Regions from separate parts of the Homo sapiens genome. Here all the other regions are linked to region 2. Evidence: fine-mapped expression QTL. A gene starts in region 2. Each other region holds a variant in brackets. All regions are shown on one strand. Distances are from middle to middle. Region 1 overlaps GPAT3 (glycerol-3-phosphate acyltransferase 3). Region 2 holds the start of GPAT3 (glycerol-3-phosphate acyltransferase 3). Region 3 has its middle 81 kb from the start of GPAT3. Region 4 overlaps GPAT3 (glycerol-3-phosphate acyltransferase 3).

Evidence for each region. PIP is the estimated chance that this variant, and not a neighbour inherited with it, causes the effect.
Region 1: its variant is the best candidate, but not a certain one, in a credible set for the expression of GPAT3 in blood mononuclear cells (TOPMed, PIP 0.72).
Region 3: its variant is the best candidate, but not a certain one, in a credible set for the expression of GPAT3 in whole blood (TOPMed, PIP 0.50).
Region 4: its variant is the best candidate, but not a certain one, in a credible set for the expression of GPAT3 in monocytes (TOPMed, PIP 0.70).

Annotation. Positions count from the first base shown.
Region 1 is chr4:83,566,939-83,572,087 of GRCh38, forward strand. The region is part of intron 2 of GPAT3 (glycerol-3-phosphate acyltransferase 3); the gene reads left to right. Among named protein-coding and RNA genes, the nearest start is that of GPAT3, 33 kb to the left of the region's middle. The variant C/A (reference allele first, on the strand shown) is at 2,099.
Region 2 is chr4:83,533,835-83,538,983 of GRCh38, forward strand. It overlaps GPAT3 (glycerol-3-phosphate acyltransferase 3), which reads left to right and starts at 2,274. Exons shown (of 12, transcript NM_032717.5): 1 at 2,274-2,929. The coding sequence starts at 2,789.
Region 3 is chr4:83,614,695-83,619,843 of GRCh38, forward strand. No RefSeq gene overlaps it. Among named protein-coding and RNA genes, the nearest start is that of GPAT3, 81 kb to the left of the region's middle. RefSeq lists enhancers at 3,409-4,608, 3,782-4,076. The variant A/G (reference allele first, on the strand shown) is at 2,821.
Region 4 is chr4:83,555,069-83,560,217 of GRCh38, forward strand. All of the region lies in intron 2 of GPAT3 (glycerol-3-phosphate acyltransferase 3), which reads left to right. Among named protein-coding and RNA genes, the nearest start is that of GPAT3, 22 kb to the left of the region's middle. The variant T/C (reference allele first, on the strand shown) is at 3,145.

The DNA.
Region 1 (5,149 bases), 33 kb after region 2:
TCTAAATAATTGTTGTTCATGTATAGGAAAATTTTCTACTTTAGTAAGGTAGAAGAATATAAAATTAAGAATTCTCATACTGTATATGGTTTTTCAGGAATTTCCTTTTGTTCAGATATATAATTATTTTATCTTCAGATATTGATAGGCTTGCCATTTCTTATTCAACTTTGGTTTGCATTTTATTTCTTTCCTAGTTTGTACTTCATTTTTTTTCTCTTGTCTGGTTGTGCTGGCTGATACTCCCTGCAGTGCTAAACAGTAGTGGTGCTAGTTGGCAAGTTGGCATTTCTATGTGGATGGTCTTCAGTGCCTTTAGGGTCTTCCCAATAAAGATCATGTCAACTTTGATCTATTTTTCCATCTCATGTTAAATAGTTGCTGATTCTTGTTTTGTTACTTTAAATTAAGAGTGAATGTTGAATTTTCATGCTTTTAAGGCATGTCTGATGGTGAAGATAGATTACCCCTCTTAGACCCATTGTAGTGAATTTTATTAATAACTTTAAAAATATTTGAATTGTCTTTGCATTTATGGAATAAACATTACCTGGTCATAATATGATGCTGGAAGTTGTCTGCCAAAATTGAAGTTAGGATTTTTACAGTTGATTCTTATACTTGTGATTAGTGTATTACTTACCTATCTTCCTTTATTTCTCCTTCCCTTGTCAGTTTAAATGTTTGGTAGAATTCCTTAAAAAAAGGTCTGGGCCAGGAGTGGTGGCTTATGCCTGTAATCCTAGCACTTTGGGAGGCTGAGGCGGGTGGATCATTGAGCTCGGGAGTTCAAGACCAGCCTGGGCAACATGGCAAAATCCTGTCTCTATTTGAAAACAACAACAACAAAAAAAGCCTGGGTCTGGTGCTTATTGGTTGGTTAGGGGTGCATATGTAGGTATTTTTTTGCTGCCTGCAACATTATTTCATCTGTGCAAATGGTTCTCTTTAGCATGTTCATCTCTTGGTGTCAGTAAAGCTTTGAGCAACTTTTTTTTTAAATAGAAAATTATCTGTTTACCCAGATTTTCATTAAAGTTATTTGCAGAAGACTTTGTGTAGAATTCTTTCTTATGATTTTTATGATTTTCTGTTTTTTTCTTTGCACATTTTTATTTTGTATTATATGTGGGCTTTCTCTCCTGCCCTTATTTTATTTTTCTTAATTGGATTAAGTAGTGGGGTGTGCAGGTGCTTAAAGTAAACTTTACCCTGTTTCACATTAAAAAAAAATTGATTGTAACTTGTATCTTTAAATGTGCCAACCCAGGCCATGTTACTAGGGGGAGCGTGAGTAGTTTCATAACTCGAATGCTTTTTTTTAAAATAGGCAATTGTGATTGAGTCATCATGATTGAGTAGCGCTTAGGAAAACCAAAGGAGATGCATTTATTTTGAGCACATTTCATGTATATTAAAGGTCATCATAGTTGTGATGACTTCTTCCCCTTTTCATTTTATGGACCTATTGTATGGTATATCATAATCTATTTCTTCTAAGGCAGGGTTATTGCTACCAGGAAACCTGTGAAACTTTTATGTAGTGTTTTTTAACTTTTCATTTGTATTCACTTTTTTTTTTTTTTTGAGACGGAGTCTCGCTCTGTTGCCCAGGCTGGAGTGCTGTGGCGCGATCTAGGCTCATTGCAAGCTCCGCCTCCCAGATTCACGCCATTCTTCTGCTTCAGCGTCCGGGGTAGCTGGGACTACAGGCACCCGCCACCACACCCGGCCAACTTTTTGTATTTTTACTAGAGACGGGGTTTCACCATGTTAACCAGGATAGGCTCGATCTCCTGACAGGTGATCCACCCACCTCAGCCTCCAAAGTGCTGGGATTACAGGTATGAGCCACCACGCCCGGCCTGTATTCACATTTTTCATTTGTCATCCTCTTCAATTCCCCCACTTCCAATAACTGAGAAACTTAAAACCTTAAAATAACCACAAAACTGCCTAACAAGGAGCAACCTCTCTTACTAGTACATTGCTAATGTAACCATTAAATAGATAAAATACTATTCATAATATGTGAAATTAAGTGGAAAGATGTTATGTGTGTCTGTGACCTCCCAGTGTTCTAATGCTTACTGGTAAT[C/A]AGTTGGTTCTCTCATCTTAAGTATTTCTCCTAAATCAGCTTCATTTGTAAGGTGAATGGTTTAACATAGATCTGTTGTTTGTATCAACAAAATGATAATGTTATTCAGAGGTAGGGGCAAGTCCAGGTCTTGTGGGGGCTTAAAGCTTATGCAATTTAGAGGCCTTCTTTAATAAGGAATACAAAGTGATCCATGCAAAAGTAAGTACAGGACCTTGGAAGGAGCCTATGCAAGTTTGGACCCTGAAGTTTAACCTTACTGGCTTCATGGTCAATCTGTCTTTTGCTCAAAGACCTTGAACTGAAACCTGGAGTGATGACTGAGAAGAATATAGCAGGGCTGCTTGGCTCTTTGGACCAAAAAAGAGAGACCATTTTCTATAAACCTTGCCTGGCTGACGGTCCAGGTTAATAAAGATGTAAAAATGGTAGAAGGTGTGAGAATATATCTAAGAACAATAACACCAACAACAAATCAAGGGGGATTATCCTTTCTAAACCTTGACTATGTCATCTGTGAGATGTGTAGGGAAGCTGCTTCTGCCGTGTAGAGGCCTTGAAGAGTAAGGATACTGGCAGGATGCCTGTGCACTGATGTTACAGAGTCTTAGCAGAGGGCAGAACGGTCTCCTTGGACAACGTGGACCTGGCTGAACTACAGCACTGGGGACCACTTGGTGCACCACTGCCCAGGGCATGGTTTTGTTTGTTTGTTTGTTTGGCTTATTGTAGGATGGCCCAGAGATTCTAAATGAGAGGAATTTAAGTGGGTTCCAAGCTGTAAAAGATTCCTGCCTCAGTTAAAAAAAAAAGGGTGAATTGTGTCACAACTTTCTGGGAAGAATGATCACGTGTAAGTGAATTGTAAGTGCATGTCTAGATTAATGTTAGATAGGGGCCATATATAGATTTTCTTGTATCAATTAAAGTTATCTTTCTTCCCTCAAAGGTAGGAGAAATGCTAGGAAGAGCTGCTACTCAGGGCTTTCTGTTTAGCAAGGAAGAACTGGGGGTGGTGTTGTATTGACGAGAAATATCTTACATATTTGGGATTCGTCAGTGGGCAGGTATTGGTTAGAGCGATGTGAAACTTGAGGCAATAACATATGAGGAAGCACTTGGTTTTGGAGTCACCGACTTGGTTGCAAATCCTGTCTCAGTTCCTTCTTCTCTCTGGCCCCAGGCAAGTTACTCAACCCCTCTGCACTTTAATTTCCTCATGTATAAGTTGGAGATAATACAGAATACCTCATAGGATTGCGAAGACTACAAAAGTGTAGGTGTCAAGGGTTTTATATACAGCCTGGCATCAGGAGACACTCAGTCAATGTCAGCTGCCTTTTAGTTTAGGAAGGAAGATTTTAAAATATACATGGGAAGATAGGATTGGCTAGAGCCTTTAATTGAAACTATAGCTAGAAATTTGGGAGAACTCTTTTTTTTTTTTTTTTTTTGAGACGGAGTCTTGCTCAGTCACTCAGGCTGGAGTGCAGCGGCACGATCTCGGCTCACTGCAACCTCCGCCTCCTGGGTTCAAGTGATTCTCCTGCCTCAGCCTCCTGAGTAGCCGGCACTACAGATGTGCACCACCATGCCTGGCTAATTTTCATATTTTTAGTGGAGACAGGGTTTTACTATGTTGGCCAGGGTGGTCTCGAACTCCTGATCTCAGGTGATCCACCCGCCTTGGCCTCCCAAAGTGTTGGGATTACAGGCGTGAGCCACTGTGCCCAGCTTGGGAGAACTCTTAAAGGTAATCTTTTTTTTCTGATTAAAAAAAAATTGAGGTATAATTTGCATCTGTTACAATGCACATATTCAGTGTTCAGATACATGATTTTTTACATATTTGTAGGCTCATGTGATTACCCCAATCGAGCTAAAGAACACATTTATGATCTCAAAGTTCTCTTAAGCCCCTGCTCAGTATCTGCCCTTCATCTCTCAGTCCCAGTGGTACTCTCTCTTCTGATTTCTGTCATCGTCTGTTTTTACTGTTTTTGACATTTACATAAATGAAATCATACATTATATATTCTTTGTGTCTGTTTTTGTTCCCACTCTGTATAATAGTTGTGAGATTTCTCCATGTTGCATGAATCAGTGGATTTTTAAAAATAATTGCTATGGAGTATTCCTTTATATAATACCAATAGTTTGTTTATTTATTATAATGTCGATTGATAATTGGGTTAGTTCCAGTTTTTAGCCATTAGGAATAAAGCTGCTATAAACATTGTACAGACATTCTTATGACTGTCTGTGCCATAGGGTAAGCAAGTATTTGTTGAACTTTATTAGAAACTGCTACATGGTATTCTAAAATGTTTGTGCACTCTCAGCAGCAAAGTTTGAGAGTTCCAGTTGGTCCCTAGCATCTCCAGCACTTGGTATTTTTGGCCTTTTAAAATTTTAGCCATTTTTGTGGGTATGTAGTAGTATCTCATTATAGTTTTAAAAATAACATCTTAAGTATTTTTCTCAATGTAAGTATTTTTCAACAAAGTATATATACTTTGTTGAAAAATTAGACATTGCAGAAGTATAAATAAGTTAAAAATCAGCCATATGAAATACTTATTAATCAGAAAAAGCCTAATATTTTAATGTATTTCCTTATAGTTTTCCCCCACTCATATATATATGTGTATATATATATATACACACACACATATATATACACACACATATATATATATACACGCATATATATATATGTGTATATACACATATATAGTTTTGTTGTTGTTGTTTGAGATGGAGTCTCCCTCTTTTATCCAGGCTGGAGTGCAGTGGTGCCATCTCGGCTCACTGCAATCTCTGCCTCCCGGGTTCAAGCAATTCTCCTGTGTCAGCCTCCCAAGTAGCTGTGAGTACAGGTGCCTGCCATCACACTGACTAATTTTTGTGTTTTTTGTAGAGACGGGGGTTTCACTATGTTGGCCAGGCTGGTCTCAGACTCCTGACCTCAGGTAATCCACCCCCGTTGTCCTCCCAAAGTGCTGGGATTACAGATGTGAGCCACTGCGCTTGGCTTCATATATATATTTT
Region 2 (5,149 bases):
AGTAAGTAAAGGGGGTCTTGACTTCAGGGACGGAGAAAGTAGGTTCCTACCTAGGTTTAAGTCTCAAGGAATGGAGGAGGGAGGAGAGGTGAGGAGAGTGAAAGAGAGACAAGGAGAGCGGCAAGTCGGGACCAACTTTCCCCGACTTGAGACAGGGTCAGGATCACCCTACATTTCTTCTCTTCCCTCACCCTCCTCCATCACTGCAAAGATGAGCCTTTGTTACCCTGGGGAGCCTGTGTTGGCTCTCCTGCCTTTTAGGCAAGAAAAAGATGAAGAGTTTTTGCCCTTGCACCAGGCTGCCTGCTGATCTCTGCATAGAGCTTTGTCATTTACCATGCAGTTTCATGCTCACAATCACTTTCAACCCTGAGAAGAACCCATCTTCCTGATGAGAAAGGTGAAGCACAGAAGCACTTGCTCAAACTTATATGTGTTCGTGCTGCTCTCAATCGAAGACTCCAAATTCCATTTTATTACCATTGCACCATACAGCTGTGGACGAATAATTCTTCCGTAACAGTTAAAACAAAACCAAACCAAAACCATTTTGTGGAGTTTGTTCATGAGCACCAAAAATCACTGGAGAGTGTGTGCACTCAGCACACGCAAAGTTGTGTGTATTATCTCCCTTGTGGGGTAAACTTTGGTACAAGGATTTAGCCTTCCTTAGTTATCTTGGTTTGAGGAAATAAAAGGAAAATAAGAGTTTTGCCTGAACATATGGTGTTAAATATGCCAATATAATATTTGAAGTTTTGCACTCAATATATATAGTGTTTGAAAGCAAGGACTTTGGGCAGCTTTCGGTAGTTGCGTTTTCCGTGTTTTTCTAAACTAGCCAACCTTACAGAGGTTTAATTTTGAGAAACCAAGCTCCTAACACTTCTTCATTCATAACCCTTTTTTTTTTTTTTTAGACTGAGTCTCACTCTGTCTCCCAGGCTGCAGTGCAGTGGCACGATCTCGGCTCACTGCAACCTCCTCCTCCCGGGTTCAAGTGATTCTCCTGCCTCAGCCTCCTGAGTAGCTGGGACTACAGGCGTGCGACACCACGCGGGGCTAATTTTTTTGTATTTTTAGTAGAGACGGGGGTTTCGCCATGTTGGCCAGGCTGGTGTTGAACTCCTAACCTCAGATGATCTGCCCGCCTCGCCTCCCAGAGTGCTGGGATTACAGGCGTGAGCCACCGCGCCCGGTCCATAACCTGGTTTTAATCATCAAGTTATAATTTTTTCCGTTCTTAGTGTGGGAGGGGGCTTGTGACAGCTACCTGGCAGTAAGTACTTAAGGCAGACATCTACATTCTTTACAGAGGGGCTTGTCACTTCGTTGGCTCCCCACTTCCTCCACACCCTGGGCAGGGACCATTTTCTCTGCAATATTTGCTATCAGCGCTGTTTCAATTCAGTTTGCTGGCCCTCTCAGTTTTTTTCCAGCTTGAAACAACACCTGAAAAGTACCTGTAAGAGATTTTGGTCGAATTCAGCGGCAATCTGGAAAATCCCTTCTCAAAATCCCTTCTGCTCATTCTTAAAAATAGTTCTGGTCTCTAAGAGAACAGCAATGTAGTAAATAACATACAGGGTTTTGCCCTTCGTTGCTCTGATAAGGGCTGGCGCGGTAGAAGCGCGGAGCCTGAACACCCAGGAGACACCTGTCAGCTTGGTGAATGAAGGCTTGCGCCGGCCTGGCATTTCTGCTACGCCTAAGCGCGGATAGTATTGGCTGAATGGTAGGGGAAGGTGTGGTTGGAATCTTCCCCCAGAAAGGGAGTGACAGATACTTAGCCGCAGGGTTTCTGTGCCAGGGAGATGGCGGCTCAGTGGGCTAGGCAACGCGTGGAGAGAGCTTCCTACTCTCGGGATAAGCAAGATTGAGCCCCACAGCTGTAGGCCATGTGGGGAAGGAGGTGTGGAAGCCAGAAGCGGCGTACACGGCTGCGTGGTGCGCTCTGCGTTTTCCTGTCCTTGGAAGCCCTTTCCAAGAGTTCGTTTTACACCCACACAAACAAGACCTCAAGCGTCCCAGATACGTCAGCAGTTCATTCTGCGGGTGAAGAAAATATTGACATTTTTCAGATGAAAACTCTCCTCCTGAAAGGACCTTTGCTGAGTGCTGGGGGAGGCGGGGCGCGGGGAAGAACGGAGACCGCCCAGGAGGCTGCGGCACTCCTGGGCTAAGTACTGCCAGGGAGCTCCCCCGTTGGGTGACGGAGGAGGTGGGGCGAGGGCAGCGCGCAGAAATAGGGCGCTGGGCGCCCGAGCGCAGCCAGCTTCCAGCACAGCCCGCGGCCCGGTGCCAGCTCCGCCGGCGACCGGTGTGCCAAAGTGCGGTGCTCCCGCAGGGAACCTGGCTCGGGGAGGGCCTCCGTGAGTCATCTGCTGAGTTGTCGCAATCGCCACCCAGAGGAAATCAGGCACCGGGCGGGGCGGGTTCCTGGCTGCGCTCGCGCGCTCTGCCCGCGCCGCGGTGTGCCTCCGCTTACCCGCAGCTCCGACCACTGGCTCGCGCTACCCAGGTCTCCGCACGCCGCGGTGGCTTCAGCCCAGACCTGGGCAGCCAGCGGAGAAAGAGTTAACTGGCAGGGGCGAGGAGGAGCCCAGGGAGGAAGGAAGGATATTGCCGTAATTCTGAAAGTTTTTTTCCTTCCTCTCTTCCCTTCGCAGAGGTGAGTGCCGGGCTCGGCGCTCTGCTCCTGGAGCTCCCGCGGGACTGCCTGGGGACAGGGACTGCTGTGGCGCTCGGCCCTCCACTGCGGACCTCTCCTGAGTGGGTGCGCCGAGTCATGGAGGGCGCAGAGCTGGCCGGGAAGATCCTTTCCACCTGGCTGACGCTGGTTCTCGGCTTCATCCTTTTACCTTCGGTCTTCGGAGTGTCTCTGGGCATCTCCGAGATCTACATGAAGATCCTAGTGAAAACTTTAGAGGTGAGTGCCGGGAGGGATGCAGCCAGCCCCACACCGCTGCGGGCTGAGAACCCGGGGGTCCAGTTCTCAAGGTCAGTGGTCGCGAGTCAGGGGTGTGTGTGCGCGCGTGTGCATGCGTGCGTGCATTTCTGTTCCTTGCCCGCAGCAGTGCGAAAGTCAGCATCTCGGCTTCTTTCGCGGAGCTGGAGGGATCTAGGCTGGAACCACTGGACCACTCTGTTGTTTCTCTGGTCGAAGGCGAAAAAATCATTCCACTCCCTGAGCATCGTTATTATTTTACTGATTAGAATAACAACAATGCGACCAACTTTTTGTATCAGAGGATTTGCTTATATCCATTATGCAGTGCAGTTTCCGCTTCACCCGCTTGTTTTTACAGCCCCAGGTTTCAGAGGTCCTTTTGTGTACTAAGGCATCCAGTTCAGAAAGGCATCATGTTCTTCTTTATGCCCAAGATAAGAGACCAATTGCTGGATGGCAGAAAGAAATCTTATTTTATTTTAGTGGAGTCATGGAAATTTTATCTAACCAACAGCACTTGAAATGCCATTGAAAAGGTATATATTCTTTGACCTCAGGTCTCCCTACCCTCCTGTTTCCAAATCCTGCAAAGAAAAATGTTAGATGGAAGTAGGCCTGGTAGAGAACAACTGCAGCTTACTCTTAGGGTTTTATTAAGTGTCAAAAGGCTGGGTAGGGTAGGGAGGGCAAGTGCCAACCCCCTTTTACAGAGAGGGAAACTGAGAGTCAGAGATCAGTGGTTTCTTTGAATTAAGTGTTAGAAGCAGGAGTCTTTTTTTAAAAAAAAATTTAATTATATGTATAATATGTGTGTGTGTGTGTGTGTGTGTGTGTGTGTGTGTATATTTAACATAAGAGACAGGGTCTTGCTATCTTGGCTAGGCTGGTCTTGAACTCCTGGCCTCAAGCAATCTTCCTGCCGTCACCTCCCAAAGTGCTGGGATTAAAGGTGTGAGCCCCACGCCTGGCCAGAAACAGGCATCTCAACTGAGAAGAGGCCCTGCAGCCTAGTGGTTAGGATTAGGGACCCTGGATACAGGTTTGCTTAGATTTGGTACCAAAATTGTAGCTCTGTTTCTCAAAATGTGACCTTAGGGAGGTCATCTACTCTTGTGCCTCATTTTCTGTATCTATAAAATAGGAGTAACAATAACTCCTATTTCCATAGGGTTGTTCAAATGAGTTAAAAGGTATCAAGCACCTTAGAAGGCTGCCTGCACCTACTGTATGAATGCTTGTTGCTATTAAAAGAATAATATGATTACTGAGATTCTGGCATTCCACAGTGCCTTCTAATAAGTTTGGTTCCCATTTTTGTGACCTGTTTTCTCTCTGCCCTTAGGACGTGGCTTTATCTGCTCTTCTTTCTCAGCTAATTGGGTGGCTCCCAGGTATACATCTCTAACCCACTGGACATTGTCTTGTACTTGCTAGCCTCCTGTATTGCCCTAGACTCTTGTTTGTGGCTATTTCTTTGCCTAGACTTTGAAGTTGTATGTGATTCTTCATCCTCAGTGCTCATGTTTTTAAAGTTCTACTGTTTCTACTTGGGAGCTATTTCTCAGTTTTGAACTCTTCTTATTGACTTTACATTCTGAGCTTGGTCACATTATGCTGTGAATTTCTTGACTGCTTCCTAATGTGAGATCTTCAGAATCCTCTCCCATAGCAGATGATCCTCTTCAGCTGGTGTTCCCTCTTTCTCTGAACTCTGAAATGATTGAACTGCTCTCTCATACAGCAATGTCTTTTGGAATTTATACCCTGTGTAAGAATGGTGTAAAGGTAAATCACACCCACTGGCTTCCAGGGGCTCACTTCTGTCTGTTTTTCTTTAGTAACTCAAGGTCAGCTAAGGACGGAGGCCAGCTAGTTGCTGTCAGCCTGGCAAATTATTATACCTGATAGGATGATCTCCAGTCCAGGATCTGACTTTCAGTTTGACAGGCCAGAGATTTTAATTTTTGTCCTTCTGGATAACTCCAGAGCTGAACTCCTTGTCAATCAAACTGACAAGAATGCCAGTTTTCTAATTCTGGTGGGAGAAACCAGATAACTTGGAAACCAGGTAGGTGACACATCAGGAACCCACCCTGTCTGCTGAGACTAAGTTATTAGGTCAAAGAGATGCTTGATATATGTGGAATTTGAATACAGATTCATTGTGTGAGCCAGCTCTGATTTGTTGGTTGCGGCTGC
Region 3 (5,149 bases), 81 kb after region 2:
ATGATCTTTGTGAGTACCTCAGTGGCCTAGGCTGTGAGAATCTATGGTGGCAGTGGTGCATCTTTGCGGGGATGGGACCATTGAGCTTTTTCTCTGGCCAGAGGCATAAGTGTGCAGTGGGTTGGTTGGTTTGGTGACTGGCTTGCTGGGGGTGAATTTTCCATGCAGTTTCGCTGGCCATGGGTGCAGGGATACAGATGCTTGGTGGACCTGGGAGTGGGTCCACCAGGAATGTTTCTGCTGGAGGTGGGTTCACCTTGTTGCTTCTCCAGCTGGGACATGGATGTGCAGTAGTTCGGTGGCTTGTCTCAGGGGCAGGTTTGTCAGGCTGTTTCTTTGGTAGTGAGTGCCAAGAAGGGGGACTTTCTGGGGGAAGGTCCATTGGACTATTTAGTTCAGCCAGCCAAGGGTTGGCTTTCCTGCTGTGCAATGCTGAAGTCATGGCTGTTCCTGGCCCCATGCTCCAAGCAGACAGCGTTGTGGTATTGCAGCCACCTGTGTGGACTTGGTAAAATAATGGCAGAGACTCAAGGCTGGAGACATGCAGTGGCTGCTGGACCCCAGAGCAGGGTGGACTCTAGCAGTGGTTCCAGTTTCAAGATGGCACAGTCCTGCAGTAGCTTGGCTCACTGGGGTTGATTGGGGTGGGGAGTGCACACCTTGTGTTCCTACTCTGGAGTAACGCAGCTATGTTAATTCCAAGCAGCTCCGCAAACTGGGCTAAGGGCTTTTGAGGACTGTGGGATTCTTCTATAGTAAGTACTACAGGAATCTGCAGTGGCAGTTCAGGCATGTGGGGGCCTTCTGCTTACCTTTTTCCCATATGGAGAAGTCCCTCCTGGATCTGAGCCAATCTCAATGGGAGAGATGGGGTGGCAGGGGCAGGGTGCCTTGCTCCCCTCTTTTTGCTGACATCCTGGGCTTCTGTGCTCCACAGGGATTTCACCAGTCCCTTTCTGCACTCCAGTGCTGTCCCTCAGACACTACAGTTGAATGTTAGTTGTTATTTGTTGTTTTGGTTGTTTTTTGTTGGGAGGGATATGTGCCAGGCAACTCTAGTTAACCATTTTGTTGATGTCCTTTATTTCCCTTTGTTTTTTTTATGAGACTGAGTCTCCGTCTGTCATCCAGGCTGGAGTGCAGTGGCACAATCTTGGCTCACTGCAATCTCTGCCTCCTGGGTTCAAGCGATTCTCCTGCCTCAGCCTCCTGAGTAGCTGGGATTACAGGCATGCACCACCACTCCCAGCTATTTTTTTTTGTATTTTCAGTAGAGACAGGGTTTCACCATATTGACCAGACTGGTCTCGAACTCCTGACCTCAGGTGATCTGCCTGCTTCAGCCTCCCAAAGTGTTAGGATTACAGGCATGAGCCACTGCGCCCAGCCTTATTTCTCATTTGTAAGAGTTATATCTAATTCTTTTTCAAATGTGATTACTCTCACATAGTTTTGAAGTACCTTATGCTTATTGATTTTATGTTTTTCCCAACAACTCCAAAATCTTATATCTTTTGAGGGTCTGGGTCTATCTTTTCTGCTGCTTCTTGTTCATAGAGTCTTTGTGTGTTTAGAGAATTTTAATAATTATCATCTTTGGAATTTTATCCTCTCTTAGACCTGGAGAGCAGGGATCAGCAAACCAAAGCTTGTAGGCCAAATCCTGCCCTCTGTCTGTTTTTGTAAATACAATTTTATTGCAAGACAGCATTTGTTTATATATTGCCTATAGCTGCTTTTGCATGACAAAAGCAAAGTTGAGTAGTTGCTATAGTGACCTGCATGGCCCACAAAGCCTAAAATGTTTACTATCTGCTTCTTCATCTGATATGGTTGCCCACCCCAGCTCTAGGGCACTATCAATCTGGTACTACTTTAAACTATATTGTTGGCTTGAGGTTATCGGGCTATGGAAATAGTGAGAATTCAGTCTGTAAATCCAAAGGTGAGCCATTGTGGTTTTGAATGATCTGTGTACTATTTTTAGATAAATCCACATTGTATTTATAAGTAATTCATTCTTTTTAATTGCCAAGTAGTTTTAAATCTTTAGGGGAAAGTTATTTTTCCCTTTCACTTATCAGTAAGGTTTGACACAAGCAATTTGCCTTGCTTACATTTGAGATTGGAGGATGGATTATTTCTTTTTTTTTTCTTTTCTTTTTTTTTTTTTTTGAGATGGAGTTTCGCTCTTGTTGCCCAGGCTGGAGTGCAATGGCGTGATCTCGGCTTACCGGAACCTCTGCCTCCCGGGTTCAAGCGATTCTCCTGCCTCAGCCTCCAGAGTAGCTGTGATTACAGGTGTGCGCCACCATGCCTGGCTAATTTTGTATTTTTTTTGGGTAGAGATGGGGTTTCTCCATGTGGTCCGGCTGGTCTCGAACTCTTGACCTCAGGTGATCCGCCCGCCTCGGCCTCCCAAAGTGCTGGGATTGCAGGCATGAGCCACTGCACCTGGCCCTTTCTACTTTACTGTTACACAGAGGTTATAGTCCTTTGATATTTCACCTTCAAAGGAAGACTGTAGTTAGACTTTCCATCTTGGGCAGGACTTCAATTTTGTTTTTTGTCCCTTAGGCCCTTAAGGCTCTAGAAACCAATGCTAGAGTTTGCCTGGTTCAGCCAATGCCTGCAAAGTAAATGACAACTGCTGGGCTCTCTGCTCTGCTTTTTCCTCTGGGAATCGATCTTCCTTTAGTCTCTGACTTGAGTAGTCCTAACTTTCTTGCTAGTTACAGAAGCATTCAAAATCATTTTCTTTTATCATATAGGAAGAGAGTGAGTTCTTGTTGCAAAAAATAAAAGTTCTAGAAGGAGACA[A/G]CTTTAAATTTAAAAAGAAGTTTCTCTGAGTGTTTTACTCTAGGTTAAAGCCATTATTTAAATATAAGGAGAAAAGCCTCTCCTTTAGAATCATTACTGTTCATTTGCAAATTAAATGCTGAAAGGTTTTGTAAGATAAAGTGATTTATAGGAGATCTGGACTAACACAGGGAAAACTGGAAGATTTTGGTGTTGGTGGAGAATACAAAAACCCGACAGCAGGAAGTCAGCTGAAAGAAGCCACCAGGTCATTGGTGTTCTTGGCATTGTGGGTGGGTGGTGAGTTTTCAGGCTGCACGTGTTACAGCCTAGGCTGAGGATCCCATCAAGGCTTTTGATGGCCCTCCATGGTCATAAATTCCTGCTATGAGCACTCCCTGCTGTTGTGAGACGCATATAGTAATTCTGGCTACTTGCTGGCCTCTTGGCTCTGTGTCCGGAAAAGATGTCTTGGAAAACTCTGAGAATAAAAAATGTATACTCTATCTTGGTGACCTAAAACATTTCAAATCCGTTTGCCCTCTAAAGCTGTGATCAGGGAGTGGATAGCTCAAAGAGCAGAACCAGTTAGTCTCCTCTCAAGGTGAAATATATATATTTCTTATACAAATAGGTGAATTTAAACTTTTTTGAGAATCTTTGACAATTGTATGTCTTGGCTTAGTTAAGATATATCCTTGCTGATTACACAAGTCAATTAGGGATCACAGGTTAGAGTTGGGCAAGTTTTCAAATCATTGTTTCTCTAGCTTTATAAAGGAAAACACCTATATTTGGTGCTTACAATTCGTATGCTGTTCTAGGTCTGAGGACACAACAATGACAAAGGCAAAAACTCTGGGCTATGGAAATCCACTGAAGCAGGTGGAAAATAAAAACAAAATCAAGAAACATGTTTGGACGAAAACATCATAGGGGATTTAGAGTGCCTTTGAACATTTTTCATGTAAGTTTGGGATAGTAAATGCCTAAGCACTCTTCTGAAAGAGTTTACAGAAAAGTATACTTCCTTTACAACTAAAGTATAGTGTCAATGGAATCAAGCTCTGTGACTAGGAGCCGGGAGTGGAGCTGACATCTATGGAATGCACACGTGACAGTGCTCATGTGCTGAGTCACCTGTGGGGTTGACCTTGGTTCAAAGCCTGTTTTTCATTGCAATCATTCTTTGATACAGGCAGCCCTGATGTCTGTTGCTAAATTAAGCACAAGTGAACCTGTCAAACGTCCTAACTGGAAGGAATTTTCAGTGCTGGTTATTTGTAAGGCAGGTTCTGAAACTGTTCCTGCAGAACCGAATTTTTTTTAGGATAGGCAGAGAAATGACTTTGGAAATCCTGTTCTATCCAGTCAGTTCTCCAGATTTTTGGTTAACAATGGAATGATGAATGAAATACCATAGCTTCACCTAGTAAATTCCTTGGTCCAAAAGCTCTCTTTGGAAACTGCTTCTGTTTAACAGTTATCCTCTTTAGGCATTTACACATATTTTATAAAATACATACTATAATTCAGGCTCTGTTAGTCTTGAGGTTCTTTGCTGCCCAAGGCAGGAACTTGCCATTCAGGAGCTTAGAAAAATCTGGAAGTAGAGACAAACACCACTAACCACAAGAGGAAGTGGCGAGGCCCTGTTTTCCAGCCCAGGAACAAAGTGCTGTGGGAGTGTAGAGAGGTGATAAATGTTGGGTGGAAGGGTGTGTAGAAGGGAGGACATGAGTGTGCCTTGAGGAATGACTAAGTGCTCTCCAGTGAAGTCAGGAAACGTGCAGGTGATTCCTTGTTCTGTGCATATACTGTCCTTCCCAATTCCCATACCCTTGAGAAAACAAAACAAAACCAAACCAAATAGGAGAGGGTTGTTTATAATCGCAGACCTTTTTGACTCCGAAATGCCCCATGTTCTTATTTTGGAGCCATTTACCACTTCCCCAGCATCACTTCCCTAGCCCAAGCCATCATCATTTCTTACAGGGCTATAGTAACTCTTCTAATGGATCTCCCTGCCTCTTCTCTTGTTCCCCAAATAGTCTATTTGGTAAATAGAAGCTAGTGTGATAATTTCAACTCATAAATTGACTCATTTTGCTCCCACTATCAGAACTCTTCAGTGGCTTCCCATTACACAGAGGATAAAGATTAAATTCCTTACCCCAGTATTCGAAGCCTTGAAACAATCTGACCACTGATCAGTCTTCTAGCCTGATTTCTATCATGCTTTCCCTGGCTCAAACTCCTGCAGTACTCTGGCCCTTTTGTTCTTTTTTTGAAACCACTATGAATTTTTGTGCTCAGGGCCTTGGCACTTGCTACTTCAGCTTGGAATGAT
Region 4 (5,149 bases), 21 kb after region 2:
GCTGGGATTACAGGTGTGAGCCACTGCGCCTGGCCTCCTCTTCTGAGAGTTGGCTTTGTCACTGTGACATAATAAGAAATATGTATTAGACTTCTGCTCCCTCTCCCTTTCCTGTCACATAGGTCCTAAAACCTTTGGCATCTCTGCAGTGATAAGTGATAGTGTCTTTGTGTATGCTGATGAGATGACTGGTGGCTGGGAGCTCCTGGATAGATAGCCTCAGGATGGTGGCTGATTGCCAGGGGAGCCAAACATGTGATTACAGGGTTGGAACTTTCAGCTCCCCTCCATATTGCTCCCCAAAGGGCAATGATTAAATCGATCATTTAATCATTTTATGGAAGCTGATGTCATGAAGCTTCCATAAAAACTAAAAAATACAGGGTTTAGAGAACTTTCAGATTGTTGAACACATCCAGGTGCCTGGTGGGAGGTGCACCCCAGCTTCATGGGAACAGAGGCTTCTGTGCTAGGGACCCTTCTGAACCTTGTCGTCAGTGCAGTATTCATCTGGCTGTTCATTTGTGTGCTTTAAAATATCCTTTGTAATACATCAGCACTAGTAAGTAAAGTGTTTCCCTGAGTTCTGTGAGCCATTCTAGCAAATGACTGAACCTGAGGAAGGGACTATGGGAACGCTCAATTTATAGCTGGTAGATCAGAAGTACCAAAGGCTTGGACTTGCAATTGGCACCTGAAGTGGAGGCGGTCTTGTAGAACTGAGCCCTTCATTTGTGGAATTTGACTCTAACTCCAGGTAGATAGTGTCAAAATTTAATTGAATTATGGGACATCTAGCTGGTGTCGAAGAATTGTTTGGTGTGGGAGAAAAACCCACACATCTGGGGTCACAGGAGTGTTCTGTGTTTTGGTGAGAGTATAGTAGAAGAAAAGTCAGTTTGTTTTTTTCTTATTATATAGTCACTTACCAGGAAGCTCCTAACAGTTTGTCCTTATCAATGAAATTTTTGAAGAAACAAATCTATTAAGAATATTTAGCATTACAATCAAAGATACCATACATAAATGCCAAACCACAAGGCTGACATTTTAAGTGAATTAATGGTTCATTTGACAGTGGAGTTTTATGAATGCTTCTGTGCTGTGGGATTTCTTGTTTAATCAAGTTAGCTGTATCCAAATCAACAGAGTTAATGTGGGCTGCCAGCCAAGATGTAGGTCAAGAGTGGGTTGTTAAAATGTTAGTCGTTAAAATGAAACTCTGTTAAGACCATTCTGGCCAACATGGTGGAACCCTGTCTTGACTAAAATACAAAAAAATAGCCGGATATGGTGGTGCACAGCTGTAATCCCAGCTACTTGGGAGGCTTAGGTATGAGAATCACTTCAATCCAGGAGGTGGAGGTTGCAGTGAGTTGAGATTGCACCACTGCACTCCAGCCTGGGTGACACAGTGAGACTCAGTCTCAAGAAAAAAAAAAAAGAAAAAGAAACAAACAAAAAAGGGAACTCTGCCTGTTATTCTCAACGCTATTTTTTTTTCAGTGCTAACTGACAATTGATTAGTGTCCTCAGCTCCACCCCATCCCCATTTATGCATCAAAACTCACAGTTAATTATGTGGCTAATATTTATATTTGGGGTTAAAATTTTCCTATTTTATAATCAGCATTGATTATTTTGTAAGTTTTTGGAGAACTACTGGAATATGCAATGATGAAAAAAGAACTAGATTTTCTCATCTACGGTTCTCAAAAAAAAAAAAAAGTAAATCTATTGCTTCTAGCCTAGTATTTGTCTTAGTCCACTCAGGCTGCTATAACAAAATACCATAGAGTGGGTGGCTTATAAACAACAAACACTGATTTTTCACAGTTCCGGAGGCTGGAAAGCCCAAGATCAAGGCCCAGCTTCCTGGTTTGTACAGGGCTGTCCTTTTGCTGTAACCTCACATGATGACAGGAGTGAGGGATCTTTTTAGGACCTTTCTTATAAGGGCAATAGTCCCATTCATGAGGGCTCCACCCTCATGATCTAATTACCTCCCAGAGGTCCCACCTCCAAATACTCTGACATTGGGGATTAGGTTTCAACACACTAGTCTTGGCAGATGCAAAGATTTAGTCTATGGCAGTACATTTAACTTGGTTTTGGTAACTGAGAGATGCTAGCAGAAAATTACTCAGTTATAAAAAAGGGGAGGGGTACAAATTATTCTATTACAAATGTGCAAACCATGTAGCAATCGGAGTATTGAAGTTACCTTTATTTTAGTAAAGCTTTTGATTCTATTCTAATCCCAAATAACAGGGTCAGCAAATCCATTCTGTCTGTTCCCTTGCCATCATCCTGGCAGACATCACTAGTTGATGAAGTTTGACTCTAACTTAGGGGTATCCAGTCTTTTGGCTTCCCTAGGCCACATTGGAAGAAGCATTGTCTTGGGCCACACATAAAATACACTAACACTAACAATAGCTGATGAGCTTAAAAAAAAATTGCAAAAAAATTTCATAATGTTTTAATGTTGAATGTGGCCCAACACACATTTATATGCAGCCCACAGGCCATGGGTTGGACAAGATGCCCTAAACCATGATATGTCCTCAGAACTCTTTCATGCAATCCAGCAGACAGCTACTCATGTCTCATTGTTTTGGAGTTGGCCTTTGCACTACCTCTGATCTGGAGGATAGATAGGGGTTCTCACGCTGTGTACCAGAGAGGGTCACTAACTGAGAGTTGGGGAACATGTTGAGTAGCTGGGTTTTGGCATGCATTTGATTTTATTGTTTGAGGTAGTATTGATGAATTTGACATAATGTAAAGGGCAATGAAGTTGATTGGAGACTCAGAGTTTTAAACAATGTAGGAAACCGGAATAGAATTTAAAGTCATCTTGACTGGGTGTGGTGGCTCATGCCTGTGATCCCAGCACTTTGGGAGGCCGAGGCAGGTGAATCACCTGAGGTCAGGAGTTCGAGACCAGCCTGGCCAACATGGTGAAATCCCATCTCTACTAAAAATACACAAAATTAGCCGGGCATGGTGGTGCATGCCTGTAATCTCAGCTACTAGGGAGACTGAGGTAGGAGAATCACTTGAATTGGGGAGGCGGAGGTTGCAGTGAGCCAAGATCATACCACTGCACTCCAGCCTAGGCGACACAGCAAGCCTCTGTCT[T/C]AAAAAAAAAAAAGAAAGTCATCTTGACAGTTTTGATGAATGAACCATCAGAGAGTGGGACTGCTTTCAAGATTGTTTACCCATAGCTGATGCTCTAAAATGGGATTAAAAAAACTGGGCTGGGTTACGTGATAAAGGTGTGCCACAGAATGACAGAGGCAGAGGTTTAGACAACCAGTGAAAAACAAGGCAAAACAGAACCTAAAAAGATGCTGCAGTGCTAACAGAACCAGCACATTCAACCACACAGCCATGACTGAACCACTCACCCTGGTTTCTGCCTGCAATATGAAAGGAGATCATTCTGGATGGGGGACATTGGCAAATGTTTTTTGGTGGATATACTGGTGTTGAAGCGGCCATGTGGAGATGGATTGGGATTAAATAAAGTGAGAAGACTGTCTAAACTGGAGGGATGAGGGAATAGCTTAATTAGCAATGGGAGTATATTTAGTTTATAGAAGGGACAAAACATAGAAATAAGGTTGTGGGAAAGCAAGATTGGGTTCTGGAGGCCCTAAAAACAAAGCAGTTTGGATTTGATGTAAAAGCGTAGATAAACCCAGGTTAACTGTTCATATTAAGGGTGGCAAAGAGGAAATTCTGAAGCCTGAAAAATGGTTAAGAGATCTGTGAATCTGTTAAGTGAGATCTGTGAAGGCTGATTACTGAATTTAGAGAAAAACCAAGGGATGACTCATATTAAGTTGGTTAACTAAGTTGGAAAGAGGAAGCAAACCCACATTTTCTCAAATTCTTAAGAGATGGAACAAAAAGATTGGCTTAAATGGAAATAAAAGAATTATATTGTATATAAGAAAACACTTCTTGTTAGCAAAAAATGATTAGAAAACTGGACCAGACTAGCAGGTAGATTATATGAGATATTTTCCAAGTAGGATAAATAGTTTAGAATTTTGGGAGAGGTATAAGTTATATAACAAAGCTCTTTTCATTTTCTTAACAGTGCCTGGTCATCTTGATTGTAAAAAGTTCTCTATAAAAATTTTAAATGTCTGTTTATTTTTAAATCCTTCTTTAGGCAGTGTTTATAATCATGGGACTATCTCATGTGGATTACTTAGTATATAAGCAGAGAAAGCAGGAAAGATTTTTTTTTTGTTTTTTGGAGTTAGAGTCTTGCTCTGTCACCCAGGCTAGAGTGCAGTGACCCAGTCTCTGCTCACTGCAACCCCTGCTTCCCAGGTTCAAGCGATTCTCCTGCCTCAGCCTCCCGAGTAGCTGGGATTACAGGCGCATGCTGCCACGCCTGGCTAATTTTTTGTATTTTAGTAGAGATGGGGTTTCACTGTGTTGCCCTGGCTGGTCTTGAACTCCTGAGCTCAGGCAATCTGCTTGCCTCGGCCCCCCAAAGTGTGGGATCGCAAGCGTGAGCCAGTGCACCCGGAGAAAGCAGGAAAGTTCTTCATCAGTTCTTTTAATCTGCCAGCAAGTAGCAACAATCGTTCCATTCTCCTTTGCCTTTTCTTCTTTCTCTAAAATGTTTTGGTAATGGAATTTCCCATTTTTCTCTGTCCTCTCACCGAAGCTCCTGGGACCCATGCATTCTCACATGAACAAAAAGATGAGGGGGGCAGGTGGCAAGGCATGCTTTGTACACAGTAGGCTGGGGAGATGGAAGTAGATAGCAGTGCTTCTGTTTGGCGAGAACAGGATTTTGGTCAGACAAGAGAGACAGCCAATTGGACTTGTGATTAGACAGAATCCTTTTCTTGGGTTGGAGTAGGAAAAAGCCAGTGATGTCTGGATGCCTGGGGAGCAGGCAAAACCTTTAGGCAGGAGCTTTGGTCTTTGTGAAGCAGCCTCAGAATAGTATGGTGGAAGCTCCACTGTGGACCCCCTTCACTGACTTTTCTAGACCAGGTGCCTGGTTTTCCTGCTTCTCTTCCTCAAAGCTCTGTTTCCTCCAAAGATTGGGCTGGTGAAAGAAGAGCTTTGATTGCCTAGAGGCCCATGAAGTTTCCAGAAGGTCCCTCAGGGAGCA